4 linked regions of the Homo sapiens genome follow. Each later gene encodes a partner of the first gene's protein in a complex. Each region holds a gene or a part of one and is shown in the gene's direction. Other genes may lie near its edges.

Region 1 (8,201 bases):
GTGTTGTTTGTTGTTTCTTGGTTTTAATTGTTCCTCATCATACTTATTTATTTATTTTTGAGATGGAGTTTCGCTCTTGTTGCCCAGGCCAGAGTGCAATGGCGCGATCTTGGCTCACCGCAACCTCCGCCTCCCAGGTTCAAGTGATTCTCCTGCCTCAGCTTCCTGAGTAGCTGGGATTACAGGCATGTGCCACCACTCCTGGCTAATTTTGTATTTTTAGTAGAGACGGGGTTTCTCCATGTTGGTCAGGCTGGTCTCAAACTCCCAACCTCTGCTGATCTGCCCGCCTCAGTTTCCCAAAGTGCTGGGATTACAGGTGTGAGCCACTGTGCCCGGCATCATACTTCTTTATACTTTTCCATTTCTAAATTCATACTCTTTCAATGAATGATTCTAATTGCTCTTGGTCATTTTAAGTTTCATTTCATTTTTCTATGACATTAACTACATTTTGGTATTAACCAAACTTTCTGCTGTATGCAGACCTAACTACTAGAGCCTTGATACTTTGATCCAGGTCCTTGCTAAACATGTTTAATATTTTTGACAATAAGACTGTATTCTCCCTGCATGTACATATCCTTTTTTATTTTTATTTATTTTTTCTTTTTTAGATGTGAATATCTCTTGATTTGTATATTTAGCTAGTAATATAGCTAAGACCCTTTTCTGTGTGTGTGTGTGTGTAAGATAAGAATCTCGTTCTGTTACCCAGGCTGGAATTCAGTGGCGTGAACACAGCTTACTGCAGTCTCGACCTCAGGGCTCAAGTGATCCTCCTGCCTCAGCCTCCTCCTGAGTGGCTAGCACCACAGGTGTACCCTACCATGCCTGCCTACTTTTTAATTTTTATTTCTTTGTAGAAACAGGGCCTTGCCATGTTGCCCAGGCTGGTCTTGGACTCTTGGGCTCAAGCTATCCTCCCACCCTGGCCTCCCAAAGTGCTGGGATTACAGATGTAATCCCAGTCTAGTTAAGACTCTTATAAAAGTATTTTTGGGGTTGTAATTAAATGTATCTTGTCTTCTGACCGAGAGCTTGATCTGACCCATCATTTGGTACTGTGGTAATAGGTAAAGATGAAACATACAAATTAAACCAGAATGTCACTGTTCTTTCTGTGTTATTTTGATTATTTCAAAGAATGTATTTTGTTGAGCTTTAGGATTCTTAGGAAACCCTTGTGAAACACTGTATTGTAAGTTTATGAATCATGTTGTCATGTAAGATATAACTCAAGACTTGATAAAAGTTCAGATTATTCCATTCGTTTCTCACCGGAAATAAAAATTTGCCTACCACATCTGTTGCCCAGGCTGGAATGCAGTGGCGCGATCTCGGCTCACTGCAAGCTCCGACTGCCAGGTTCACGCCATTCTCCTGCCTCAGCCTCCCAAGTAGCTGGGACTAAAGGTGCCCACCACCATGCCTGGCTGATTTTTTTGTATCGTTTTTAGTAGAGACGGGGTTTCACAGTGTTAGCCAGGATGGTCTCGATCTCCTGACCTCGTGATCCGCCCATCTCGGCCTCTCAAATTGCTGGGATTACAGGTGTGAGCCACCGCGCCCGGCCACACCTTGTTTTTTACAGCATTACTGAAATCTGATAATTACCGACTACTGAACTGAGTGTCAAAAGACAAGGATATAAAATGAACTAAAATGTACCCACCACATCGTTAATAGTGGAAAATAATATGGGCAAAATATTGGGAGACCTTTGTTAGATTGGCATTTTTATTATTTATTTATTTATTTATTTATTTTTTGAGACAGAGTTTCGCTCTTGTTGCCCAGGCTGGAGTGCAGTGGTGCCATCTCACCTCACTGCAACCTCTGCCTCCTGGGTTCAAGCAATTCTCCTGCCTCAGCCTCCCGAGTAGTTGTGACTACAGGTGTCCACAGCCTTTGGAAGGCTAAGGCGGGTGGATCACCTGAGGTCAGGAGTTCAAGACCAGCCTGGCCAACATGGTGAAACTCTGTCTCTACTAAAAATATAAAAATTAGCCAGGTGTGGTGGCAGGTGCTTGTTGTATGTACTACAGGCACATACAACCTTGCCTGGCTAATTTTTAGTATTTTTTGGGCAAAACGCCCAACAGGGTTTTGCCATGTTGCTTAGGTTGGTCTTGGACTCCTGAGCTCAAGTGATCCTCCATCCTCAGCCTCCCAAAGTGCTGGGATTACAGGCATAAGCCTCCATGCCTGGCCTCCTTCCTTTTGAAGGATAAATAATATTCCACTGTATGTATATAACACATTTTGTTCATTCATCCATGGGTGGGCGTTTGGGTTACTTCTACCTTTTGGCTATTGTAAATAATGCTGCTATGAACCTGGGTGTATGAATATCTCTTTGAGACCCTGCTTTAATTCTTTTTTGTTTTGTTTTTTCTTGAGACGGAGTCTCGCTCTGTCACCCAGGCTGGAGTGCAGTAGCGCGATCTCGGCTCACTGCAAGCTCCACCTCCTGGGTTCACCCCATTCTCCTGCCTTAGCCTCCTGAGTAGCTGGGACTACAGGTGCCTGCCACCACGTCCGGCTAATTTTTTTGTATTTTTAGTAGAGACGGGGTTTCACCGTGTTAGCCAGGATGGTCTCGATCTCCTGACCTCGTGATCTGCCCGCCTCTGCCTCCCAAAGTGCTAGGATTACAGGTGTGAGCCAACCACGCCCGGCCGAGACCCCGCTTTAATGCTTTTGGGCATATACCCAAAAGTGGAATTGCTAGATCATATGGTAATTCTATTTTTGATTTTTGAGGAAGCGCCATCCTAATGGGTGTTATATATCTCATGTTGGTAAAGTATATTTTTTTAAAAAGAAAAATATTACTTAAAAAAATCTTTATTTTGGCCTTGGCAACAGAGCAAGACTCCGTCTCAAAAAAAAAAACTTTATTTTAATGGAAACAAACTATATTTGGCCAGGTTTAGCACATAGTAAATATGTGAAGTGCTCCAGTATATTTCTTGAGATTGAAGATGTGCATATAGATGTTGACACGTTTAAGGATTCAGCAAATTTGTAATCAGACCATATTAATTTCAGTGGTTCTCTTAATTAAAGGGTGAATCAAGTGTTATGTATTATTTTGCTAAACCGAACACATTATTTTCGTTAGATTAGAAGCAGAATGTCAGTGTAGTTGCAGCAGAGCGGAGGCATTGAGTAAATGTGTTGAATAAATAAATGAATAAATACCTTATGAAGGATTTGGAACCCAGGGATTCTTATCATTTTCTGGACAGTAACCGGTTTTAGGGATGATAAAACTTTTCCCCAAATGTCTGTATACATACAAAACTTTGCACGTGAAAAGTTTAGGGAATTTCACCTGAATAACAATTGTATTAACCAGCAGTTAAGTTTTATCCACCACATTAAACATAAGCTCCCTCCTCCTGATAACCTTAAAAAAGGTATTTTCAGCTCTAATATTCTGAATGTAATGTTGGGGAAAAAAAACCTCCCAGGAGGTGTTATTAATACAAGGATTCATAACCAGAATTACATCACCAGATATTGGAATGAGCAGTATTAAATCAGTCAGATTACCAATGAGAAAAGTCAATACCAACTTGTAAGGACTGAAATATTTATGTTAACATGGTTCTTTTTATAGATTTCTCACTTAAAAATTTTCTCACTCACTTAATTACTCAAAGAACATCTTCAGTTACTAACTGGAGAAACTGAAAATGAAAGAAGAAATGGGTGAGAGTGGAATCCTCCCACCTCAGCCTCCCCAGCAGCTGGGACTACAGGCACAGGCCACCTTGTGTGGCTAATTTTTAAAAAAATTTTCTTTAGAGACACTGGGTTTCACCATGTTCCCCTGGCTGGTCTGGAACTCCTGGGCTCAAGTGATCCTCCCACCTTGGCCTCTCACAGTGCTGGGATTACAGAGATAAGGCACCACACCAAGCCCTGAGTCAGATTTTAATAAATTCAGTTTCCATTAGAGTGGAAAATTTTCAAATTAATGAATTATTTATTTATATATTTTTTGAGACAGAGTCTTGCTCTGTCGCCCAGTCTGGAGTGCAGTGGCATGATGTTGGCTCACTGCAGCCTCTGCCTCGTGGGTTCAAGCAATTCTCCTCCTTCAGCCTCCCCAGTAGCTGGGATTATAACCTTGCATCACCACCCCCAGCTAAATTTTTTTTTTTTTTGTATTTTAGTAGAGATGGGGTTTCACCATGTTGGCCAGGCTGGTCTCGAACTCCTCACCTCAAGTGATCCACCCACCTTGGCCTCCCAGAGTGCTGGGATTACAGGCGTGAGCCCCAGTGCCTTACCAGAATGGAAATATTTAAGTAAACAAAATATTTCTAAATGTAAACTAATGGCCTACTTATTTAGCAATTTCAGTTCAGTTCTTAGGAGTTTAATATTTCATCTATATTTTAATTAACCACAGATATTAGGCTTTCTCAAAGATAACATTTTGTCCTAATTTTAGTTTCTCAAATCGTTATTAAGGTTATGATGGCAACCCAGCTTGTGAAGTAATAGATGATAATAATATAGTCAGGAAATATCATTTGGTAACCAAGGCTTCAGCAAAGTATTAAGATTTTTGTGTTTGTGAGTGTTATAGGTAACACTGTTGGCCCCCAACATTGTCATTTTGTACACTTTGTTGATCAGTGGCCTGAATTCATTAAAATTCACACTACATGCCTCAAAAAGAATATTGGATCCCAGCCTAGGTTGTTGAGTATATTCCTGTCCTTTATTAAAATGTAGGTTGATAGAAAGGTGGTAGGGATATTTAAATCTATCATGCTAATTTACTTTCTTTGTATCACAGCAAGGATAGGGAATTAGGAAAAGATTACTCACTCAATAGAGAAAAGGTAGATAGAAAATCCAGTATTATCTTGACAAAGCAGTGAATGTTTTAGTATGATTGAGGATAGGTAATCTAGTGCTAAAGTTGGTCACAGAATTTCCTGCACAAAATGAAAGATCTGTGTATGGGAATGCTAGAGAATTTGACTTCTCAGAAATATATAGACCAACAGTGGTTGCCTTTTTTCATTTTCACTTCTCTTCATTCTTAGATCTACGGAATCCAGAGGCAGCATTGTCTCCAACCTTCCGTAGTGACAGCCCAGTGCCTACTGCACCCACCTCTGGTGGCCCTAAGCCCAGCACAGCTTCAGCAGTTCCTGAATTAGCTACAGATCCTGAGTTAGAGAAGAAGTTGCTACACCACCTCTCTGATCTGGCCTTAACATTGCCCACTGATGCTGTGTCCATCTGTCTTGCCATCTCCACGGTAATGACCTGACAGAGTTAGGATTTACCACTTATTTTCAGTTCACGGTCAGTGTCTTATTGCCCATACCTCCCCTCGTTCTCTAGCCAGATGCTCCTGCCACTCAAGATGGGGTAGAAAGCCTCCTGCAGAAGTTTGCAGCTCAGGAGTTGATTGAGGTAAAGCGAGGTCTCCTACAAGATGATGCACATCCTACTCTTGTAACCTATGCTGACCATTCCAAGCTCTCTGCCATGATGGGTGCTGTGGCAGAAAAGAAGGGCCCTGGGGAGGTAGCAGGGACTGTCACAGGGCAGAAGCGGCGTGCAGAACAGGACTCGACTACAGTAGCTGCCTTTGCCAGTTCGTTAGTCTCTGGTCTGAACTCTTCAGCATCGGAACCAGCAAAGGAGCCAGCCAAGAAATCAAGGAAACATGCTGCCTCAGATGTTGATCTGGAGATAGAGAGCCTTCTGAACCAACAGTCCACTAAGGAACAACAGAGCAAGAAGGTAGGGGTCATGTGAAAATACTCTCACAATATGCTCTTAATTATAGCTTTGTTTGACAGGGATTTACCCCTAGGGCAAGGAACTGTTTACAGCAGTGGTTCTCAACTGGGGATGATTCCCTACTGCCCAACTCCCAGGGGATCTGGTAATGTCCGGAGACATTTTTATTGTCACACATGGGGGAGTGCTATTGGCATCTAGTGGGGGTAGAGGCCAGGGATGTTGTCAAACATCCTACAGTGCATAGTGGGACAAACCCCCACAACAAACAGTTGTCTGTCCCAAAGTGTCAACAATGCCAATGTCGACAAATTCTTATTTAGATAATCTGTCACTGAATCTGAAAGAATTGGATCAAGAGAAGAGGAATCCAAATATATAGAAATATAGGGAGATGAATGGAGAGGAATACTAGACCAATTATGGAAATTGACTAAATAATGTGAATTGGTTCTGAGTATAAGCATTGGCCTGACATGAGTTCTTATCTGTTTGGTACTTCTAGTGCGTGAGTTTGAACAAGTTAATTAACTTCTCTTGAGCCTTAGTCTTCTCATCTGTAACATGAAGATAATACCAGCGTATCCTGCCTTATAGAATTGAATAGACTCTGAGCTAAAAAGTAAAGTGTTTAGCACTATACTTTTTAGTTCAGCACCCAGTAAATATGTTTTTTGTAGAAGGAATGCCTTCCTGGGGAGGGGATGTTAACATAATGCTTAGCGGTAGGAACCAGGCCTCTTCCATTTTAATTTCATCCCAAATGCATATTTGTGAGGAAGGACTGAACCCCTAACAAATCTCTTATCTGAAGGCTCCAATTTTCCAATATTAAGTTAGCTAATTTAGGTCTAGGCACAATGGCTCATTCCTGTAATCTCAACACTTTGGGAGGCCAAGGCGCGAGGATCACCTGAGGCGAGGAGTTCAAGACCGGCCTGGGCAACATAGACCCTATCCCTATAGAAAGTAAAGTAATTAAAACATTAGCTGGCATGGTGTCACGCACCTATATTCCCAGCTACAATTGAAGGCTGAGCTGGGAGGATCACTTGAGCCTGGGAGTTCAGTGGGAGAAACAGTGAGTTATGATTACACAACTACACTCTGGCCTGGGTGACAGCAAGATCCCATCTCTTAAAAAAAAAAAAAAAAAAAAAGTTGATTTATCTCTTAGAAGACATTAATGTCAAAAAGAATTTGCGGAGTTGGTCTAAGAGCCAATTTGATCTATAAGACATTTTAAGTCCAAGGCTACTTCTGTCACAGGTCAGTCAGGAGATCCTAGAGCTATTAAATACTACAACAGCCAAGGAACAATCCATTGTTGAAAAATTTCGCTCTCGAGGTCGGGCCCAAGTGCAAGAATTCTGTGACTATGGAACCAAGGAGGAGTGCATGAAAGCCAGTGATGCTGATCGACCCTGTCGCAAGCTGCACTTCAGGTCTCTTGGAAGGGAATGAGGTGGGATGGGTTTGTCAGAAGCAGCCATTCCTTTTCAGCATATTCCTTCCAGTCATTGGGGTTCTGTCTGTAATCTTATTTAGTTTATGGTTTGTGTAAGTCCTCCAGACCCTGAAGGTGTACTTTCAGAAGTGCATTGTGTGGGAAGAATACAGGCTGTACTCCCAAATAACTGAGATTTTTTTTTTAAAAGCTCCCTCCCTCTTAGAATAGCAAAGTATGTCTGTCTCTGAGCCACAGTGAAAGTTAAAGTACTCTGAAAGGAGGATAATCTTAGGAGAAAAGGAACCTAAACTCTTAGGTCAGTGTTTTATTCTGTTCTACCCAAGTCTCCTGCACTGCTTGCCTTCCAGTGGTAAAACAGGAAACCAAGTCTTTACTCAGAGAGGAATTACAATTGTTCTGTAGTATGAATTATGGATTTCCATGCTACCTGCCTCCCTTAAAACTCTTGAAGGAAGCTCTAATGATAGAATTAGGGGAGGGTAATAAAATAGACATTTTGAAATCATTTGGAATTTGAACTGTTGGATCTACATCTGGAGCACCATCTTGATTCTCCCTTTTTATTTTCCCAGACGAATTATCAATAAACACACTGATGAGTCTTTAGGTGACTGCTCTTTCCTTAATACATGTTTCCACATGGATACCTGCAAGTATGTTCACTATGAAATTGATGCTTGCATGGATTCTGAGGCCCCTGGCAGCAAAGACCACACGCCAAGCCAGGAGCTTGCTCTTACACAGAGTGTCGGAGGTGATTCCAGTGCAGACCGACTCTTCCCACCTCAGGTACCTGTCTGCTCAGAAAACTCGTCTCAACTTACGGACTTATGTTTGATAGGGCAGCCATACACGTTAAGAAAGCAGAGCATAATTCAGCAATCTTGTCTTGCTTATTGGGAATGGAGGGGGATAGATAAGCTTTTAAGGGAATAGGAAAAATCAAATG
Region 2 (8,201 bases), on another chromosome or scaffold:
AAACATTCAAATGTGAAAATGAAGGTGTTCTAATAGAATCTTGCCAGAAAAATTACTCCAAGGGGCTCCCCATTAACACTGGATTTATTCTTTGGTCATTCTAAGAATTAGCACTTCTGTAACTGTATCCCAGATTTTGTAAAAGATCCCAGATTTTGTAAAATATTTATTGGTTCTTTTTATTCAAGATAAAAAATCCCCAATCTTTTTTAAACTATATGATATGGAAGTGTTGTGCCTTTTTAAAGTGAATTTATCTGAAGTGGCCAGTAGTCCTTAGTCACTTTCTATGTAATATCTAAGAAATTTTTGTTGTTAAGGACTTTATAATTTGTTACTGTATTCAAAAGGAAATAGTGCTTTATGCTCTGATTCTTAATTTAAAAACAACAAAAAGCAAAAAAGTCCCAAAGAAACCCAGAATGTTATCATTATTAAATGCTGTACCTCATGAACTTGAATCTGTGAAGCAGAGTGGGAAGGGCCAGCCAGCTCTTGAAAGTGGTAGACTATGCAAGCAACAGTAGAGACCTCAAGTGTTCAGGATGGTGTGAAAAGGACTTGTAATGAAGTGTTGGTATTTTCATTATTCACAAAGGTAAAACGATTAAACCATTTTGATATTTGAATATTTAATATTTGAGGGACAGCATTGAACTGATTATATGTCTACAACGACTTGCTTTTTAGTTCATTGGAATGTCAGGAATACTTTTTGAGCAAGGAAAAAAGTCATTCATATTTCTTTTGGCCAATGCATTGCTTGTAAGTACTTTTACATACATAAGCAACTACAATGAAAACAGATCAAATACATTAATCAGCTTGTGAGTCTATTTAATGAAGTGTTGAAAGCTGATCAAGTTGGGTTAACCCTAACTCAAGATTCTAGCTAACCATGTAATTCCACCCCTCTTTGTTTTAGGATTAGCTGTTATAAGAGTAGTAAGTAGATTAAAATAATCGTTATGGACCCATTTTTAATTTTGTTTGGTATTTTGTTCAGAAAAAGTGCAAATGAATGTGAACTTATTGTGTGTCTGTAATCCTAGTAGCCTTGGAGGCCATTGGTACTAGCTTACTACTTCCAAATTTGGCTTTGCTGAATTTAATGTGGATGGTTTGGCTATCAGTCTTGACTGTAATATTTCCTGCAGGGGCAGTTATACAACCTTGTTCAATAACTTGTCATGTTTAAAACACTACAAATTAAAAAATACGTTATTTGTATTTCCTATTTTAAGCATTTTCCTTCTTTAGTAGGTCAAGTTAAATATTTTCTGTATTATATATTTTCATCTACTTGAAAAAAGGTAACTCTTAAGCTTTAGATGGAGTCAGTTCTATGAAATAATACTCCTGTTACTCATGGGACAAGAATTAATTTATTCTATAGACAATAACAAGCAAAGACTCCAGGGACTAGAAAGTGACACTTGTTTAGACCTAGTTGTAGTATAGGAACTTTGCATCCTCTTAAATTATAATTTTCCATTACAGTGCTGACTAAGAACTCAGTCACATGTTATAGCACAAATACATTATTGCATGTTTTTACTACTAAATGGTATAATGATTTTTACTATATTTCTGAATGATTTTTAGAATAATTATTTTGCGCTTAAGGAATAATCACATTTCTTAACTTCATTTTCAAACGCATTGTTTAATTTTGCCTTCATCAGTATTAGTAAGTTCAGTTTACTAAATTTATTTTCTGCTTTGCATGCTTGATGATCAGACATGGAGACAGGGATGGTTTTCGTTCTTTTTCTCCTTCTTACTCTTTTTCTTTTAAAAAATTCTCTTGTAGTTCAAGACAATGGTTCTTGGGTTCATTAATGGTTTCATGTTTCTGTAAACTTCTCTGGAATTATATGAAAAATTTTATTCACTTTTCTAGGGAGAGGTCCTATAACTTTTATCAATTTCTTAAAGGATTCTGTATCTCAAAAGGGGTTAAAAAGCATTGCCTTAAGTGTTGATCCAAAATAAATAAAATTAGCAGTTAAACTTAATGTAATATTGAAAATCAGAACCCAGATCTTTAACCTTGATAATGTTAGGTATGGTGTTTTAATACCTGTGGCAGAATAATCTTTAAAAAGAAAAACTAAAAGAAATTACAACTTTTTTTTCCTAACACAGACAATGAGTTACAAGGCACTAATAGTTCTGGATCCTTGGGTGGTCTTGATGTTCGCAGACGAATTCCTATAAAGCTCATCTCCAAACAAGCAAACAAAGCGAAACCTGCACCGCGAACTCAAAGAACTATAAACAGGATGCCTGCAAAGGCTCCACCTGGTGATGAAGGTAATTTGTTTAACTAATAGGTCCAACACTCTTTCTGTTTTATCTGATTGCTTCGGACAGTCTGTGTGATCTTATAGCTACCTCTTTTTGTCTTACATATTCTATTCATTCTTCAACCTTCTTGTTTGACTTCTCATTGTAGCACATTGTATTTTTATTTTCCTTTATAAATATTTTTTGATTTGGTTCCTTTTGTTGTTGAAAGCAATACTGCCCATTGTTCAGTAATCTCAACAGTATTGCAGAAAGCATAACATTAAAAGTAAAATCCTTCTATCCAAAGATAATCCCTGTTGACTTTTTTATACAAAAGTATTAATTTTTTATGTGTAGTTGCCATTTTTTCATGTAATATGCATTTGAGATTTTTTTCTTATCAGTACTTACAGATGTACCTCATTAAAAAAATAGGTTTGGGTATTTATAGATATACCATAATTTATTTAACAGTTTTTCCAGTTTTTTCTGTTACAAAAAACATTGCACCAAATATTCTTGGACATACAGTTTAGTATGTATACTTTGTAGAATTTGTACTTTGCACAGATTTGGCCTTTTTTTTTTTTTTAAGAGCAATTTGACAGTACTTGTCAAACTCTAAAATCCACAGTATCTGTCAAGTTTTAAAATATCCAAATTTGTAGTTTTAAAGGCTTTGGAATTAAAAAAATAATAATAAAAAGGTATGTTAGTTTTTACTGCCATACACCAATACTGAGTACTAGAAACCTTTTAAAATTTTTGTTTTGATGTAAATTTATTTTAATTATGAAAGAGTGTATATTTTTTCATAGCATTGACCATTCTTGTTTAGATCCTTTCTTCTGAGTTCTTTGTAAATTAATAGGGTTTTTGTTATATGTTATGTATGTGCGTGTGTGTATATATATTTTTTTGTTTGTTTGTTTGTTTGTTTTTGTTTTTTTGAGACTGAGTCTTACTCTGTTGCCTGGGCTGGAATGCAGTGGTGGGATCATGGCTTGATATTCCAGGCTCAAGTGATCTTTCCACCTCAGTCTCCTGAGGAGCTGGGACTACAGGTGCACCCCACCTGCCTGGCTAATTTTTTATATTTAATTTTTGTAGTCATGGGGTCTTGCTATGTTGCCCAGGCTGGTTTTGAACTCCTGGACTCAACAGTCCTCTTGCCTTAGCCTCCCAAGGTGCTGGGATTACAGGCGTGAGCCACTGTGCCTGGCCTATATTGTATATATTCTTCATTTGTCTTTTGAATTTTGTATACAAAATATTTATTGCAGAGAATCTTTTTTTTTTTGAGACAGAGTCTTGCGCTGTCACCCAGGCTGGAGTGCAGTGGCGGGATCTCGGCTCACTGCAAGCTCTGCCTCCCAGGTTCATGCCATTCTCCTGCCTCAGCCTCCCGAGTAGCTGGGACTACAGGTGCCCGCCACCACGCCCAGCTAATTTTTGTATTTTTAGTGGAGACGGGGTTTCACTGTGTTAGCCAGGATGGTCTCGATCTCCTGACCTCATGATCCGCCCGCATCGGCCTCCCAAAGTGCTGGGATTATAGTTATTGCAGAGAATCTTGAAGATTCTATATAGTCAGATATCCGGTCTTTGCTTTTATGACTTCTGGGTTTTGTGACATTATTTGAAAGGCCTTCCCCTATTTCACCAGTATAAAAGAGTTTTTCCATCTTACCCTTGATTACAGGTTAGCAAACTATGTCTGTGGGCCAAATGTAGCCCTGTTTTTATAAACAATTTTATTGGAACACAGCTATGCTCATTCATTTAAGTATTATCTATGGGGGCTTTCACACTATAATGGTAGAGTTGAGTAATTGTGATTGAGACCATATGGTCCACAAAGCGTAAATATTTACTATTTAGCATTTCACAGAAAAAGTTCACTGATACTGCTTTAGAACATTTATGGTTATTAAGGGGAAAAAAGGTGGGGTCTGGCTTTTTTTTTTTTCCCTCGAAACATTGTCCCAACTCTTTTCCTTGCTGAATAGGGATTTTACTGTTATCATATATATGTTAAAGCAGCAGTCCCTAATCTTTTTGGCACCAGGACTGGTTTCGTGGAAGACAGTTTTTCCACAGGTGGAGAGTGATGGCAGGGTGCGGGGAGTGGTTTCGGGATGCAACTGTTGCATTAGTTAGATTCTTGTAAGGAGCACCAACCTAGATCCCTCTCTTGCACGGTTCACAATAGGGTTTGCGTTCCTATGAGAATCTAATGAGGCTGCTGATCTGACGGGAGGCGGAGGCAGAGGTCAAGTGGTAATGCTCCCTAGCCCTTCCCTCACCTCCTGCTGTGTGGCCGCATTCCTAACAGGCCAAGGGTACTGGTCCAAGGCCTGGGAGTTGGGGACCCCTGTATTAAAAGTATTTTTTTGTATTTCTGGACTTTCTGTTCTATTCCAGCAATTTGTCTGTATTTATTTTGTAGAATCAAACTGCTTTAGTTACAACATATGTTATGGTTTCTTTTATCGTAGGGTTCCTCTGCCATCTAAACAAGTATATTTCAAGTCAAAATGTTAGAAATCGTGTTAGTAATAACCTAGGGCTGCTGTTGCACTACCTCTAATTTAGGGTCACTCCTGCTTTGGCTTTGTTTAAAAAAATAGTTTTTTAAAACAACACGTTAGTGTACAAATAATTCTTTAATAGTTCAAACAATGCAGAAAAGCCAAAATCCTTTTCTCTCCTTTCCCTCTCGGATTTTGGAGTAAAATAAGTTTGTTTTTGATTGTTGTTTTCCTAGGCATCAATCAAAATATATATAGTTTAATGATGGGAGTACAGGTGGAACTACTCTGAAAAATGATAATGTGCTCCTAATTTCCTTGGCTGTTATCTCAATAATTTTCTGGTTTGAAAAATTGAGTTTCTGCCAGGTGTGGTGGCTCACGCCTGTTTTCCCAGCACTTTGGGAGGCTGAGACGGGCGGGTCATGAGGTCAGGAGATTGAGACCATCCTGGCTAACACAGTGAAACCTCGTCTCTACTAAAAATACAAAAAATTAGCTGGGTGTGGTGGCGGGTGCCTGTAGTCCCAGCTACTCGGGAGGCCGAGGCAGGAGAATGGCATGAACCTGGGAGGTGGAGCTTGCAGTGAGCGGAGATTGCGCCACTGCACTCCAACCTGGGCGACAGAGTGAGACTCTGTCTCAAAAAAAAAAAAAAAAAAGAAAAATTAATTGAGTTTCCTTATTTTGAATTTTAGATCACACCAGCTTTTCTAAGGTGTAAATGGGTGATATAGGAGCCTAGGAACACTCAGGTGTAACTTATAAGAGCATCCTGACTTTGGATTATACATTCGTATTGGCAGTAATTAAATAGCAGTACACTGAAGTGTCTATCAGCTTCAAAAACTTCTTGCATCATTGTTTGTGTGTTAATGTGAATGTGTCTCTCTGTGTGTGTGTGTGTGTGTCTGTGTCTGTGTATAGGTGCTGTAATTTAGTCATGTGGGTAAAGTTAAAACTTGTGTGCTTGGCTACTCTGTTTACCAGTTCTAGGGCCAAAAGAGTCGTGAGAAGCCTGGCTCCTTGGAGGGATATATTTGTCTGCTCAGCTTTACTTTAGGTAATTGGATTCTACCTAGAATTCCCATCAGACTGTTGATTGGTTTTCTGTTCTTTTGTAGGAGTTGAGAAGATTGCCATCAACTTTTTAATTAGGCCAGAGAAATTGAGCCCCTTTCATCTTCATATATCTTAAGTTTATTGATATTGATAAATGCATTGTAGGAAAGGATACATGAGAATACGATATGGCTCCTGTTGTTTGGGTAATTAATCAGGGAGTGGTTTTAATTGACAGGATGAAATATGAATATGTTAAAGTGTCTAAATCACTCATTTTAGGGCTAAAGAAGAGGATAACTTGTTTGCTAATAAAATCGATAGAATGCTTTATGTTTTCATTATGCTATTGGCAATACAATCAGTCTCTTAGCATACCATTTTTGTAGCTAGACTAGAATAAATGGTGATCAATATCTTAAAAATTTGTGCAACAAGCATGATCATCAGTAAAGTTTTACATTAGAAATAGTTTCATGAATTGATAAGAGCATTTGAATGGGAGTCAAGAGATCTGAGGTCTGTTCCTGGCTTTGCCACTTATCTTCTATATGTTGAGTTATGAGTCTCCATACAGTAATATTCTCAATAATGAAGTAAAAGAGTTGGACTAGATCACCAAGATCACTTCTAACTGATGTTTTAAAGTAATCTTGATTGTCTTATTCTTAGAAAAGCTTTGAAAGGCATCAGATGAGCTTTTTAGTGAAAAGGTCTATTTTGCCATGTATATGTGCTTCCAAAATGAAATTTGAGATTTGGAAAGTTAATGGGCAATACTTTTTTTTTCTCAGAAGGATTTGATTATAATGAAGAAGAACGGTATGACTGTAAAGGGGGTGAGCTGTTTGCAAATCAGCGAAGATTTCCTGGACACCTTTTTTGGGACTTTCAGGTATAATTAAAAATGAAAAATTGTATTATAACAATAAAATATTTTAAGTATTAAATACTTAAAATGTTTTATTGGAGTAATGCACAGTACATTAAGAATATTATGAACTTATAACTATGATTTTCAGCACATACAAATCATTTGTTAATACTCTATTTTCAAGAATAATTTGAAGTAATTTTCAGTAAAATCAATAACTGTTAACACTAAGAAGAAAAACTAATGGTATCACAACTAATGGTGGGGAATAAATGGAGATTATACCAAGAGGCTTCTATTTCTAATTGTTTTAACAACTTTTATAAAATATTGACCAATTCATTGTGTAGATACAATCTTTAGAATTGTGTAAGAAGGTAATTTTAATTATATCATTTCAACAGATAAACATCTTAGGTGAAAAGGATGATACACCAGTTCATTTCTGTGACAAGTGTGGATTGCCTATTAAAATCTATGGGAGAATGGTAAGTATAATTAAATATTGTTTTTGTAAGTAAGCATTTGCATAGAGGTGGGGTTCTGAAATTTAGATAGGTTTATCATTGTTTAATGACTAAGTTTGCAAAATTTTAAATAAGTATGAAATAACTAAGGGAAGTATTGGAATACTATGAATTTAATATGATTATCTTGACAAATTGTTGAATTCTTATAAAATATTAAATAAAACTGAAAATTAGAATAATTTCTGAAAACTAATTCCTTTGGAGTGTTTGATACCAGTGAATTTACAGTTATTCTAGTTTATTAAGGAAATTTTTGTTTCTTAATAAATAGAACAAAACTGCTTATTTTTGAAGGCCACAATTTTTTACATAAAACTGCATTAATAATATTTATAATTTCTCTTTTTTTCCTGAGGCTCAGAGAGGCTTAATAGTAATTATTATTTCTGAAAATTGAATTATAATCATTAAAAAAATTTTACAATCCTAACTGTAATTTTATAGTAATTTTCACATTTCTTCCCTCCAAAAAAGATAGTTTTGCATTTGCCTTTAGAAAAAAAAAATTGAATTCAATAACATACCTGTGATGGTAGATGGCATGGATTATGCAGTGTTGCTTTGCTGAACATCATAGTAAAGAAATAGTAACAGGCTGTGAATTTAAAAATGTGCTTCTAACATCATTTAATGTATCCTTCTGATTGATTTTTAGATTTTTATTAGTTAATTAACTTGAAACTACCAGAGGAAGATGCTGCTTACGTTAAATATAGGACATACTTGTTATTTTACTGCATTGGAATAGTTTCAGGAGAAACAAGATTAAAAAAAAAACACACATAATTAAAAGTATTCTTCAGGAGTTTTTGACCTGCAGGGGGCTGGGTGTGGTGGCTCACACCTATAATCCCAGGGCTTTGGGAGGCTGAGGTGGGAGGATTGCCAGAGGCCAGGAGTTTGGGACCAGCC
Region 3 (5,305 bases), on another chromosome or scaffold:
GAGGCAAAGTGGCCCAGCTCAAGATCACTCAGCGTCTCCGTTTGGACCAGCCCAAGTTGGATGAAGTAACTCGACGCATCAAAGTAGCAGGGCCCAATGGTTATGCCATTCTTTTGGCTGTGCCTGGAAGTTCTGACAGCCGGTCCTCCTCTTCCTCAGCTGCATCAGACACTGCCACTTCTACTCAGAGGCCACTTAGGAACCTTGTGTCCTATTTAAAGCAAAAGCAGGCAGCCGGGGTGATCAGCCTCCCTGTGGGGGGCAACAAAGACAAGGAAAACACCGGGGTCCTTCATGCCTTCCCACCTTGTGAGTTCTCCCAGCAGTTCCTGGATTCCCCTGCCAAGGCACTGGCCAAATCTGAAGAAGATTACCTGGTCATGATCATTGTCCGTGGTGCGTCCTAAAGTCCATGTGTAACTTGTATTTACTACTTTGACATGGTTCCTGTTTTGTGATGTGTAATGGGATACAGCATCAGATGCAATTTTCTTTTTAGTTGTTAGTTGTAGCATTTTCTTTTTTATATTTTTATAAACGTCTTTAAAATAGAAATCAGGACAGTTTAGCTATTTTTTTGTTTGTTTAGCTATTATTTTAAGTGAAAGGGATGCCCTAAAGGTAGCAGGCAGGCAGACAGATTTGCTTTAATTAGGAGTTCCCACCCTTATGAGTAATTTTTTTTCTCTATTCAGTTGTTTTTTTTTTAATCTTGAGCTTAAAAAATCCTCAGAGTTACAAAACCAAAATTTTGAAAAGTCAGAATTTGGAGAAAGGAGTCCACTGACCATATAAAGAGAGTAATAGCCACCTAAAAATGACTCGATTGGTGTGTAGGTAAATAATTCTTTTACCAGAAATGTGTGTGACTGAAATTTGATCAGGGATCTCAAAGATATGCTGGTAAATTGTATAGCAATGTAATTATTTTAATCAGGTATTTGAGTATTTCTTAAGATACAGTTTATTCCCAGAGAGTTTGCTTTAACATGCATTTTTTAAATCATTTGTTCTAGAGTTCTGTATCCCATATATGCACTTTTGGTTTGTAGCAGTAACTGTTCAGTAAAAATTAAGGACTATGTTACAAACCATATATGTCTTATGCTTACACTAGTATGCAAGAAGTGAGTAGGTGCTTTTAAAATCAGAATTCTTTGGTCAGTTATTGGTGTGTGGTGGTGTTTTTACTGACTTTTTCAGAGAGGTGTAGCAGGTACAGTTCTAATCGTGCATATTTCGAAACTAAGTGTTCTTCATCAAAGATGAGTTTTTGTTTTTGTATCAATTCAAATTTCTGGTTTCAATAATAGAAAGAAGAGTTGTCTGCAGGCTCATAGTCATCTTTTATTTCAGTGGGCATTTAAATCAGCCATATTTGGATTGCAGAATTTCTTAAAAAGTCATCATAAAATGCCTTTGACATGCTCTTTTAAAATTTTGCTTGTCTTTTTATTTTCATATTTAAACAGTAGTGACATTACATTATTGAAAATGTTTTGAACATCTTGGAAATTTTATGTTCAATATTCTCACTGCTGTCCAGCTACGGAATTGAAATGTCAGTGTAGGAAAACCTTTTTTAATTGTTTTATTTTCCCAGACACCCGGAATTAATACAGGATCATTTAACTTAGCCTCACAGTTTTTTTTTTTTCAAAGGTGAGATGATATCAACCTCTGGTTCTCAACAAGGACTTTTGCTGCTTAACAGTAATGGATTTTTTTTTTTTAATCTATCCCCTCTGTCCCACCCCTAATTTGTCAGGTCATTAGTAAGTATATTTTTCTCCCTTGATTTAAGTGCTGAAGACTTCAGCTAAGGCCCTTGATATTTAATTATGATTAGAGACTTTTGGACCTTCTGGATCATGGTCATGTTTCTGTTCTATGAAAGTGACTTAACTTGAAGCCTGGCAGAACCCAACTGTTTTCTTTCTGTTATCAAAGCTGGTAGTTTTGAAATAGCACCAATAATAACCCAGGGAAATGTCATGTAATTTTTATTTTCCATTATGACAGGTGTCTAATGCATGTCAGCACAAAAGTGTCATCACTGCTGTGTCATCCCTCTTGGTTTTCACTATGCATCTATAATTTTTTAAGTTTGCAGGTTTTGTGGGGGTTTTTGTTTGTTTGTTTTTAAACTGGAAAAACTAGCCATTTTGAGAGAAGGAAGGTTCTAGGCTATGAGCATGAAGGTCCTTGTGCCTCTTGGGAAAATACCTGAAATCCTATAATGAAGACTTTTGATGCTTCTTGCTTTCAAAAAGCTGTGGTTGGTTTGGAGTAGACACCTGTTCAGAAACTAATGCAAGTGTGGAGTCTACATACGTGGGCTCATAGTATAATTTGTGGCCAGCTACATTTTTCCAGTTTAAATAAACTCACTAACCATTAATTTTTGAATATCTTTTGTTGAGATAGTTGGACAAATGATTTTGCTCTTTTGGAGAGTGAAGTCCATGACATCTAATTTTACTGTCATCCAAAATGTGTGTTTTATTTCTTTTCTTTTACTTTCTTTTTTTTTGTTTGTTTTTTGTTTTTTGTTAGTGTGACAGCGTACAGAAGAGTACTGTGTTTTTGCTCCATGTTTGTTTGAATCTTTACCTGACATTGCCGCTTTTGTTAGGTCTGGGCAATTTGTGCTTCAGTGTTTTTGAAACAATGGCTTGATACCATTTCTAAATGTATGTATTATAAAAAACTAATTATGTTTAGTTGGTCATTACCTACAGAGTGCCATAGTCCACATGAACCTCATATTTGTACTGCCCATTCTTTTGTGCAGGTTCATAATATCCATAAAGTATCTAGTTAAACCTTAAGAATTCAAATGAAAGCAAAAGTCTAAAACCGGTTCTACTTCTCATTAGCCAGGATTTAATAATCCCAACGTTGAATGTTCTTTGTAACAACCAATTTTTTTCTATCTTTCTTCTTTAATTATTTTAATGTAGTTGATTTTTCTGGAACTCAGTTAAAATGAATGGAAAGAAAACTTCAGGATATCATTTAATGACTATTAAGTATTATTGGTAAAAACGTGAAGATAAGACTTTTAGATCACAGCTTCAAATTTTATGGAAAATTAAGCAAGCAATACCTAGCCAATAGTTCTGCTTAACTTTTTGGTTAAGTATTTTGTTGGGATTCCTATAAATAATTTTTCACACAAAGTTTTAAATTTCTGGTGTACTTTGACTCTCAACTGAGAGTGGATAGAGTTTTTCTTTTGAGGATTACATCTTAAAATGTCCATCGCCTGGCTGGTTATAAGCATTTGTCACCTTTTGAAGGTAAAATATACTCTGGCCCTTCTTGACTCAGTTACAGGTCATTTTAGGTCCAGTAATAAGAGTCAGGTGTTTGGTTATTGCTTTCAGAGTCAGACATTGTTTAGGTTTATTTAAAAACTATTAGCAGGTTTTCACTGACAATGCTTTTTTAAAAATAAAAAATGTAAATCCACTTTTTTAAGGCAGATTGTTCATTATGCATATACAGCTTGAACTATAGTTTGGGTCCATATAGGAACCAATCACCAAAAACTCTGGTAACAGAATTAGGAAATCCTCTTGAGAAGAGGGCCTTAATGACCTTTTATGTGAAAAAAATTTTGGAGAGAATTTCTGGACATTTTTTTTTCTGTCTCTCTCACAGGGTTTGGTTTTCAGATAGGAGTTAGGTATGAGAACAAGAAGAGAGAAAACTTGGCGCTGACCCTGTTATAGTGGTTATAGTGGTGTCCCTAAAGGGAGGAAATGATTTCAGGTAACCACAGTGAAATGTTAAGCTGAATGAAGAGTTTTATATGTATGGTTTAAACAGAGTTGAAAAGTGAGATTCCTGAAGTGTTCTTTGGCTGTTTAACAATTATTTGTATGAGTGTTTTATTAAAATAACGGCTGCTGTCTTTGGTAACATAGATGAGGGTGGATTTTTAAATGGCTTTGTATCGACCCCTTTCTACAATAATGGAGTAGTCTATGTTGCTCCATATAAATTACAGAATGAAAATAGATGGGGCAAAAGTTTGACTAAACTTTACCTTTTTATAGTTTCACTTTTTAAGTTATATTTAGAATATATTGATAGATTATAAATTGATTGTGAAACTTTTTTCTGAATTTTTTCAACATGTTTTACTCAGTTACATGAGTTAAAGGATATTTTCAGTCCTGTTATCTTCAATTGCAGTCTTTAAAAAAACCCACCCTATTGTTCTACTTGTTATATGTCTATTCATACAGTAAATTCATTTCAAGGTTTATGCCAGTGGGTATTATTGGTGCTTTTTGAAGTTGAGGTGAACCATCCAGGAAGGTCTTGTTAATGTTATGTTCATCTATAATGGCATAGGGGAAATATATATATTTTTAATATTGTAAACATTTGTACTGAATAACCTTTTTTTCCCCCCCTCCGCAAGCAAAACTGGTTGAACAGCGGATGAAGATATGGAATTCAAAGCTCTAATGGACCTTTTTGAAGAGAAGTTGTGGCTTATGTGGAGTTTACATGGGCCTCTGATGGAAGAAAGCTAATCTGTTTAGTATTTGTGCATTTTACTAAAATGGCAGCTTAAAGTTGTGTATCTGCTATTGTGATGCCAATGCCGGTGTTTTAAGTGGAAAAAAAATGACCTCTTTGATTTGTGCTGTGTACACAAGATTTCTGGAAAAGTAAAGAAAAACCCTTTTTATGGCTCACACAGCTTAAGAGTAGCTGTCTCTCAAACGTGCGCTCACAGTTGAGCTGCTTTTGTTTTATTCTAAATAAATTGTTTCTTTTGAGGAAAATGTTTTTCTGCCTGGAAGTGAATTGACGGCAAACCTTTGACCCCTTTGTTTGCAGCCGAGGGGGTGCTTGCTGCTGCTCAGATCTTGTATGTCTTGAGCAAGAAGCAGGGAGACCATCAATTTCATTTTGACTATCACGGTGTGTCAATTCTGAAGGATCACTAGTGTTACTGTTGACCCCCTTTGTTTGCAGTGAAGGGGATCATTTGCTTCTCGGTTCTCAACGTGATGAGGAAATGGTGCTGTTTGCTGGCACGCAAGAAGCCGGGGCAGGCACCCTAAGCCTCACCACAGTGCCTGAGTCGGGGGCTTTTGCTGGTTTGAAGAGCTGGAGTTGCTGAAATTTAAGTTTTGATTTATTTTGTTCACCCATCACGTTTGGCCTTAGTTTCATTTTTAATTTGAAGAAAAGTTTGAAATTGCTTTATCTTGCACTTAACATTTGCACCAAATTGCCAAAAGAAGGAGAAATGCTCCGTTTGCTTTTTAAATGTTAATGA
Region 4 (8,143 bases), on another chromosome or scaffold:
TGGTAGCAATCCAGGAAGCTAAATAATAACTTCTATGACAATCAGCTCAAAATGGCCAGGACTTGATTAAAACTTGACAGCTTCCCTACTTTTTGTCCTCACTTCTAGCTTATGCCCATCCAGAGAAAGCCAAATATGCTCCTTTAACCAAGACCATAGGATGCCAACTTGTAGTTAGCTTCCAGCTTCCCCATGCCAACAGCTTCCAATCAGGCATACCTGTGAAACCTTTCCTTTTGTCCACTGTAAAGCTTTCCCACTCCTCTGCATGCCTTTGAACCTCTGCTAAAACATAAGGGATGGTGGCTGACTCCCTTGCTACAGCAAGTTCTCAATCGACTTTGCTTTTCTCATTTGGTTTGCAATAAAATGCATTCTTTACAGTGACACAATTTGATGAATTTTGACAAACGTATACATTCCCACTAACCATGACACAGAACATTTCCATCACCCCCAAAAGTTCTCCCATTTTCCTTTCCAGTCAATTCCTTCTCTCTTCCCCTCCTAACCAACCACTGATCTGCTATCTACCACTATGGATTAGTGTTGTTTGTTCTCCTAACTACAGTTGGCATAGCCTCATTGGTCTAAGCACTTCCTCTGCATTCAGGCACAACGAAATACCTGGCTCATCTTGTACCTTTCCCGTCCCAGAGCTGGAATCAGCCAGTTCTCCAAAGGAGCTCTGGATCTTTTTAGTGGGAAATGGAATTTAGAAACCAAGATCTCAGTGTCAGATGTGCTCACTGTTACTGTAGGGTGCCCATGCCTATACATCCTGGTTCAGCCAGGACTGTTCCAGTTTTAATCTGAAAGTCCAGCATCCAGAGAAAACCCCTCTGTTTGTGGCAAACTAGAACAACTGGTCACCCTAGTGCTTCTAGGCCCTTTCAGTCCACAGAACTAGGACTTTTTTTTGCAGTTGAAACTTTTTTTTCTTTTTGATAGGGTCTGTTGCCCAAGCTGTAGTGCACTGGTGAGATCACAGCTCATTGTAACTTTAAACTCCTGGGCTCATTTGGGCCTCTCGCCTCAGCCTCCCAAGTAGCTAGGACTATAGGCACAGGCCACCACCCCTGGCTATTTTATTATTTTGTATTTTGTAGAGACAAGATCTCACTGTGTTGCCCAGGCTGGTCTTGAACTCCTAAGCCACTTTGGCTTCCCAAAGCACTGGGATTACAGGTGTGTGCCACTGCACCCAGCCCTCCAGTTTAAACTCAATACTACAGACTTTTTTTTTCTGAACTTCTTAAAATTCTTTATATTAGTTTCCACCCCCACCCCCGGATGAATGAACGTCTTAAAAATTGTTTTAAATTTTTTAAAAAATGGAGACAGGGTCTTGCTATGTTGCCCAGGCTGGTCTCAAACTCCTGGACTCTAGTGATCCTCCCGCTTTGGCCTATCAAAGTGCTGGGATTACAGGCATCAGCCACCCGGCCCTTTTCTGAACTTCTTTGATCTTGTGTTTGTATCTCATTCTCTCACACACTGCACATCTTTGTATATAGTAACATTAAAATACTTATGTTATCCTACCATATACAGTACAGAGTTTTAAAACCACAGTAACAATGTTACCATTAATCATAAATCAGTGAAGCTGAAAGCTCCTGTGCACTTTTTTCATCCTTAGAATACACAGTTGACCCTTGAACAACACTGGTTTGGACTGCCAGGGTCCACCTATATGTGGATTTTTTTCACCCCAACACAGATGAAAAATACAGTGGGGCGAGGGACGGTGGCTCACACCTATAATCCCAGCATTTTGGGAGGCTAGGTGGGAGGATCACTTGAGCCCAGGAGTTCAAGACCAGCCTAGGCAACACAGCTCTCTACTGAAAATAGAAAAAAATTAGCTAGATGTGCTGGCACATGCCTGTGGTCCCAGCTACTCGGGAGGCTGAGATGGGAGGATTGCTTGAGCCCAGGAAGTCAAGGCTGTAGTGAGCCATGATCGTACCACTGCACTCCAGCCTGGACGACAGAGTCAGACCCTGTTCTCAAAAAAGAAAAAAAAAAAGAAAAGCAAGAGAAGGGAAGGAAGGGAGGGGGGAAGAGAGGGAGGGAGGGAAGAAGGGAGGGAAGAAGAGAGGGAGAGAAAGAAAAAAAGAAAAGAAAAAGAAAGGAAAGGGAAGGAAGGAAGAAAACAAAACAGAAGTACAGTGGGATGCAAAACACACCTACACAAAGAACCAACTTTCCCTATGCTCAGCTCCGGGACTTTAGTATGCAGATTTCTGTATATGCTCGCAGAAGGTCCTAAATCCAATCTCCTGCATATAAGGAAAGACTACACTATCACAACACAGATACACTACTAGAGTACTGTGTTCAAAAGCTCAGAGGGGCCAGTGGTGGTGGTTCATTCCTGTAATCCCAGCACTTTGGGAGGCCAACCTGCAGGCGGATCACCTGAGGTCAGGAGTTCCAGACCAGCCTGGCCAACATGGTGAAATCCCATCTCTATTAAAAATACAAAAATCAGCAGGGGATGGTGGCGCATGCCTGTAATCCCAGCTATTCAGGAGGCTGAGCTGAGAGAATCGCTTGAACCCAGGAGACAGAGGTTGCAGTGAGCTGAGATTGCACCACTGCACTCCAGCCTGGGCAACACAGTGAGACTGTCTCAAAAAAAAAAAAAAAAACCCAAAGAATAATTATTTTTTCTGTGTATCTTAGTTATATTAGTTAACAGTTAAGTTCATTTGTTTCAATTTGCTTTCAACCTTAGGATTTACTTTGTTTCCTTTTTTATTTACTTTTTTGGCTATGTAAAACTAAAAGTTCAAAGACAGAGAAATCTTGTCTCCACCCCCCACTCTTTATAGGCAACTAAAAATGTTAAGTTTCCAGGATATCCTTCCAATTCCTCCCCGAAAATAAGCATATACACATAAATATTCATATTAAATATAAATATATATTTTTATGTATTTAAGTAAATACATAAAAGCATATATGCTTATTTTTGCTTTTGAATACAGTGAATACTTACTACACTTAAATATTTAAGTGAATACTTAATACAACCTGAGACTCATTCCAAAGCAACACACGATTATTTCCTGAATCTTTTTAATGGTTGCATTGTGTTCTACTGTATGGATGCACCATTCCCAATCAGTTCCCTATTAACGGATATTTGGGTTATCCCTAACTTTTGCTATGACAAATAGCACTGCAATAACCTTGTATACCTATTGTTTCCATGTGTGGAGCTGCACCTTCAGAATAAGGTTAGGGTTAGAAGTATAACTGCAAGGTATAAGAATAAACACAAGTAATTTTGTACTCCGTGGAACTTGAACCATTTTTCCACTCCCACCAGGAAAGGTAATTTCAACGTGTATTTCCATTGTAAGTGAGGTGGAGCGACTTTCTATGTTTAAAGACCATTACGGTATTTTTTCTGAGAATCATCTGTTCATGTCCTTCCCCATTTTCTCCTTTGGCTTTTGCACTTTTTGTTTTCAATTTTTGAGAGCTCTTGTGATACGAGTTGCAAAGATTTTCTCCAGACCGATCTGATTCACTGGAAATATACTACGACCATCTGGAATGTACTTTAATCTTATCCTAATAAATCACCTTACTACAAGACACTCCTTTGGGGATGAACAGGTTTGATAAAGCCGGCTAAGGACAGACCAATCAAAAGAATTACGTGCTCTTCTAGTAAGTGTTTAGAGACTGTTTCACGTTCTCCAGGTAACACCGCCATTACTCGGCGGTCCAGATGGCAGTCTTACTTCAGGGAGTCTACTCCACTTGCAGGACCTCTTTGATTGAGTTCACTAAACCTCACAGGGCCGCCTTCCCCGTGTTCCAGTTAGCAAGGGGCCCTCAACGCCGCGGACACAGCGCAACCTCCGACGCCAGAGAACAATAGCTCCTCGATGCGTCTCCAGAGATGTCAAGGAGGAACGAACCCAGCGGCCAGGAGACTGCGCCTCACGACTGATGAGAGGGAAGGCATCGGTTTCTAAGTTCTCAAAACTTACAGGTGAGCTTCTGCTAAGAGTAAACGCCCGCGGCTCGCCGCCCACGGCCTCTCTCTTGAGGTGGCACCTGGTCCTCCGACACGCGGAAGCATCACGGATGAGCGTCACGAACACAGAGCGGCCAATCACGCGCCGCCTTCGCCCAGATCCCTCCGCACGAGGCAGCCCCGCAGCCGCAGGTGGCCCCGGCGAGTACTTCCACCTTCCCTTCCCGTGATGCCCTGGGGCTGACCTCCGACCTCGCTGGCCCGCCCCTCCCCTCGGCCGCTTCCCTTACTGAGCTTGCTGAGCTCCGGGGCCCGCGGAGCTCGCGCCAGGCTCCTGGGAAAGGACGGGGAGTGTTACCGGGGAGCAGCTGCTCCATTGTGCCTCGAGGCCCCGATCGGGCTAGGCCGACGGCCTCCCTCCCTTCACCTTTCCTCTCCTGGCGGGGTTCGGCGGCGGGCGAGTGACTGCGGCCACGCCTGAAAGGCGACTCTCCTGTGAGTGGGCCAGAAGGCGAACATGGCGGAGCGGGGAGGCTGGCGGGAGGCGGGAGGCGGGAGGCGGGAGGCAGTGGCGCTGGCCTGCGGCGCGTTCGGACCGGCTGTGGGGCGGGGCAGGGCGGAGCGGAGCCGTGCGGCGGGGCGGGGCCGGGCGGCGGGGCCTGGTTTCCTCCCTCAGCGCCATTTTGTGGCAGCGAGACCCACAAATAAAGGGGAGCGCAGGGGTTGCGGCGGGACTAGGAGCGCGGCGGGGCCGGCGGCAGAGCTGTCCGGCTGCGCGGTGGCCCGGGGGGCCCGGGCGGCAGGGCAAGCAGCGCGGCCTCGGCCTATGCGACCGGTGGCGCCGGCGCGGCTTCTGCCTGGAGAGGTAGGCGCGGGCCGGCTGGCGGGAGCGGACGCGGGGGACCTCCGGGGCCTGAGGGCTGATGCGCAGCCGCCCCCGGCGGGTAAGGGGCGGGCAGGGCCCGAAAGGCCACACGGGCCTGGTGCGGCACCGGTCTCTCGTGAGCCGCTCTACCTTCCCGCCTGCGGGGAACACTTCCGCCGCTTCGAGGCCATTTTATCTCTGTCCTCCGTCCCCAAGGCCCGGGTTGAGAGGGGTGCTCTGGCGGCCGGAGAGACCGGCCACTCACGGAGGCCGGAGGATGCCCTCCCCGGGCTGAGCGGCGGCGCTCGTTTTTTCCTCGCCTCGGGGTCGCCCCCTTCACCTCCCTTGGGCCTCTCCTGAGGACCTGGCGGCACTAACGAGTTCAGCAAGGAAAAAAAGAAACATTCGTTCCCTACATTTCATGTCACGCAGTAGGATGTTACTACGTTCTCTTGTAGACTTCCATTTTTAAATGAGTATAAGCATTCTGAGGAAAGAAACTGAATTATTGCAGATTTTTGTGAAATCCAAGTCTTACCTTGGATCCCTGTGAGACAGTTACTAGATTTTTTTTTCACCGTTTTTCATAAGTCTGTGTACACGTAATGGAAAAGCCCGAGTTCTTGTTTTGATAAGAAAGTCACTTGGTTGTTTGATCCCAAAGGATTAGCTTAACATTATCAAGGACTAGCATAACTGTGATTATGTAAAAAAAACAAAACAAAACAAAAAAACTATTATTTAGTCTGGTAGGGAAATACTTCTATGAGTATGTTACAATTGGAAGTTGTATTTGTGCCTATTTTATCTAGTTTTAGTTAATTCCATTGCTTCGGAAGATAAGTGGACGTCATAGATCCATCGCAAGTTCTCGTTTTTTGGATTTTAAAATTTTGACCATTAAGTTTTCTACGATAGATAAACATGTTGTGGACATTTAAAACCGTAATTTAAAACTATGAGCGAAAAATCTTTTCAAGATGGATACATTTTAATTCATTCAAGTAGCATCTGATTAGCCAAGTCGGGGAAAGATTGCAGTCCGCAAAGCTGGCTTGTGATAAGGTTGAGGTTACATTTTAAGGGTTTGGGTAGGTGTGTTTCTTACAGTGCTTTTATATGTTAAGGTATCTTAAGCAGACACATGGTTTAAAAGTTCAGTATTTTTAGTACTTTTTCATTGGCAGAATTTGGACAAGCTACCAGAATTGCTAACTCCTAAAGGATAAAAGTAATAATAATAGTGTGTCCCAGGCACTGCTTATTTTTACATGGCTCTTTTATGTCTAGCTTTTCCAATTCAACGTTGAGTCATGTTTGCTGAAAATATTTTTGTGTATTGTTTGTCAGAAATAAGCTGGTAGAGATGAAACACAATGTGTAAAAAGCCCTGTGATGTGGAGATGAGCATTGTCACAATTTGTACAGTACATTAAAGCGTTCAAGGTCTCTTATGGTCTTGTATGTAGTATTGAATCCCCTTGAATATATTGTTTAGCAGTTTTGATCATTATGTATTTGCTTCTTGCTCCTCAAAATTGTACGTTAGTTAGTAGGTCCTTCAGCAAAAGAAGACTGAAGATAGTATTTTGGTTTTATTCTTGTTTTTAATTTTTTTAGTTGTCTCCAACTTTTCTGCCTCTAAATATTTTGCTTCTTGTAGTTACTAAGCTTAACACAGAAAAACTTTTCAGTATCTCCACAATAGTAAACTTCATTGTGTATTGTGTATAACAAGATGTTCCATCTGACTAAAATATATTGCTGTAAATATTTTCTGCCTTTGAAGATGTAGTTAATAGAATTTAATCTTTTCTAAGTGCACATTGAAGTTGCCTTTTATGTTCATATTATGTTCATATTTTATTTGAAAAATCTATAGCATTTTTATTGTGCTGAAAGCATTAATATTTGCAGCACTTTGTGAGACAGGCAAAATTATCTTTTTGCTGACTTGGAAACTGCAAGAGTTAAAAGACTTGCTTGGAATCACACATGGCAGATAGAGGATAAGGAAAAGATGGCCTTTCAGTTCCTCATCAGTACCTTGCTACTACAGTGTCTGCAGATTGGTGTCTTACATTCAGCTATGATTTGTTCGCCAAGGTACCGTGTCTTCTTACTGAAGTTGTTTTGGCTGGCGCTTGCCTCCGTTCAGAGGGAACTGAGTTACCTAACTTTATGATGCTAAGAGCCAGGAAGGTACTGGGATCTGGGATGCTAGGCACCTAACCAGTCTAGACTGAACTCCATACTAAGCTGTTTTTCTGTGTTAAGGCATCAAGAGTAGATGGTGGTCCTGATTTTCTGAGATATATTATCTCTGAATTATCTACATAAATAACTGAAACTTTTATGTAATTTTAAAACTAGTCAATCATGTTACCACCCTTTTGAGGGGCACCAAATTTGAGACCCTTACCCCCAATTTATTAATTAATAGCTGTTTTAATCACCTAATAGCTGATCACCTAATGACTAACAGTCATTTTCATCCTGGAAAATGGGAACTAACTTTGACTTTGAAAAGTGCTGTTATTAAATGTGTGATTCATAAGAACTGAACATATTTTCTTTATTATTTTCCTTCAGGATTCAACTTTAATTGACTCCAAATGATGTTATGGTCATTCTGTTTTTCTGATACGAGAATAGATTGTTCTGAGAACCTAGAATATTCATTGCCTTTATGAATCTAGAATTGACTTTAAATTTAGGTTATTGTGTTTGTCATTTGCGCTAAAAAAAAAATTGCCCTGGGGAATACCAAACTTCTCGGTACATTCGTGTGGTGTGAAAGTCAAAATTGCCAATTAGGTTCTATTTTGACCAAATAGTTGAATGTTGTAGACAGTTGTAAATTTTGAACCTGTTCTAATTTGCCTTTTGCCAGATGGCGCATTTAACTTTGTGGCATATCATCGACTTTCAAGGAAAGATTTACTTTTCATCAGATTAAAGTTGAGGAAGGATTTTCTTTCTAAATACTGAGGCTCTGAATTTCCCAAGTTGGATACCCCAGACAGCTAGAGTGATCTTAAAAGTGACTCTGAGAGTTGACTTAGGAAGTGTAGACATTTATCCAAAATCTGTATTTACTCCTGACTTACATTACAAATACAGAGTTTTATTTTTAAAGAAAATTTCAATAAAAAGCACCATTTAATTAAAATCTACTCACCATCAAACTTTTTAAAAAGAACATAAGCCAATGTCAGGAGTTGGAGACCAGCCTGGCCAACATAGTGAAACGCTGTCTCTACTAGAAAAAAAAAAGA

Evidence for each region.
Region 2: METTL3 (region 1) and CBLL1 share a complex: the UniProt entries of both Homo sapiens proteins name them as parts of the WMM complex.
Region 3: METTL3 (region 1) and RBM15 share a complex: the UniProt entries of both Homo sapiens proteins name them as parts of the WMM complex.
Region 4: METTL3 (region 1) and WTAP share a complex: the UniProt entries of both Homo sapiens proteins name them as parts of the WMM complex.

What each region holds. Positions count from the first base shown.
Region 1 is NC_000014.9:21,500,753-21,508,953, reverse strand, and holds part of METTL3 (N(6)-adenosine-methyltransferase catalytic subunit METTL3), read left to right. Parts: intron 1-5,072; coding exon 5,073-5,290; intron 5,291-5,376; coding exon 5,377-5,781; intron 5,782-7,050; coding exon 7,051-7,226; coding exon of another isoform or gene 7,227-7,245; exon of another isoform or gene 7,246-7,246; intron 7,247-7,824; coding exon 7,825-8,041; intron 8,042-8,201. UniProt on the Homo sapiens protein: The METTL3-METTL14 heterodimer forms a N6-methyltransferase complex that methylates adenosine residues at the N(6) position of some RNAs and regulates various processes such as the circadian clock, differentiation of embryonic and hematopoietic stem cells, cortical neurogenesis, response to DNA damage, differentiation of T-cells and primary miRNA processing.
Region 2 is NC_000007.14:107,746,732-107,754,932, forward strand, and holds part of CBLL1 (E3 ubiquitin-protein ligase Hakai), read left to right. Parts: exon of another isoform or gene 1-765; intron 766-2,148; coding exon 2,149-2,316; intron 2,317-5,813; exon of another isoform or gene 5,814-5,886; intron 5,887-6,679; coding exon 6,680-6,780; intron 6,781-7,163; coding exon 7,164-7,247; intron 7,248-8,201. UniProt on the Homo sapiens protein: E3 ubiquitin-protein ligase that mediates ubiquitination of several tyrosine-phosphorylated Src substrates, including CDH1, CTTN and DOK1. Targets CDH1 for endocytosis and degradation.
Region 3 is NC_000001.11:110,341,873-110,347,177, forward strand, and holds the end of RBM15 (RNA-binding protein 15), read left to right. Parts: coding exon 1-396; intron 397-3,666; coding exon 3,667-3,737; 3' UTR 3,738-3,777; intron 3,778-4,435; coding exon of another isoform or gene 4,436-4,482; 3' UTR 4,483-4,805; downstream 4,806-5,305. UniProt on the Homo sapiens protein: RNA-binding protein that acts as a key regulator of N6-methyladenosine (m6A) methylation of RNAs, thereby regulating different processes, such as hematopoietic cell homeostasis, alternative splicing of mRNAs and X chromosome inactivation mediated by Xist RNA.
Region 4 is NC_000006.12:159,722,839-159,730,981, forward strand, and holds the start of WTAP (pre-mRNA-splicing regulator WTAP), read left to right. Parts: upstream 1-4,667; 5' UTR 4,668-4,865; intron 4,866-8,046; exon of another isoform or gene 8,047-8,127; intron 8,128-8,143. UniProt on the Homo sapiens protein: Associated component of the WMM complex, a complex that mediates N6-methyladenosine (m6A) methylation of RNAs, a modification that plays a role in the efficiency of mRNA splicing and RNA processing.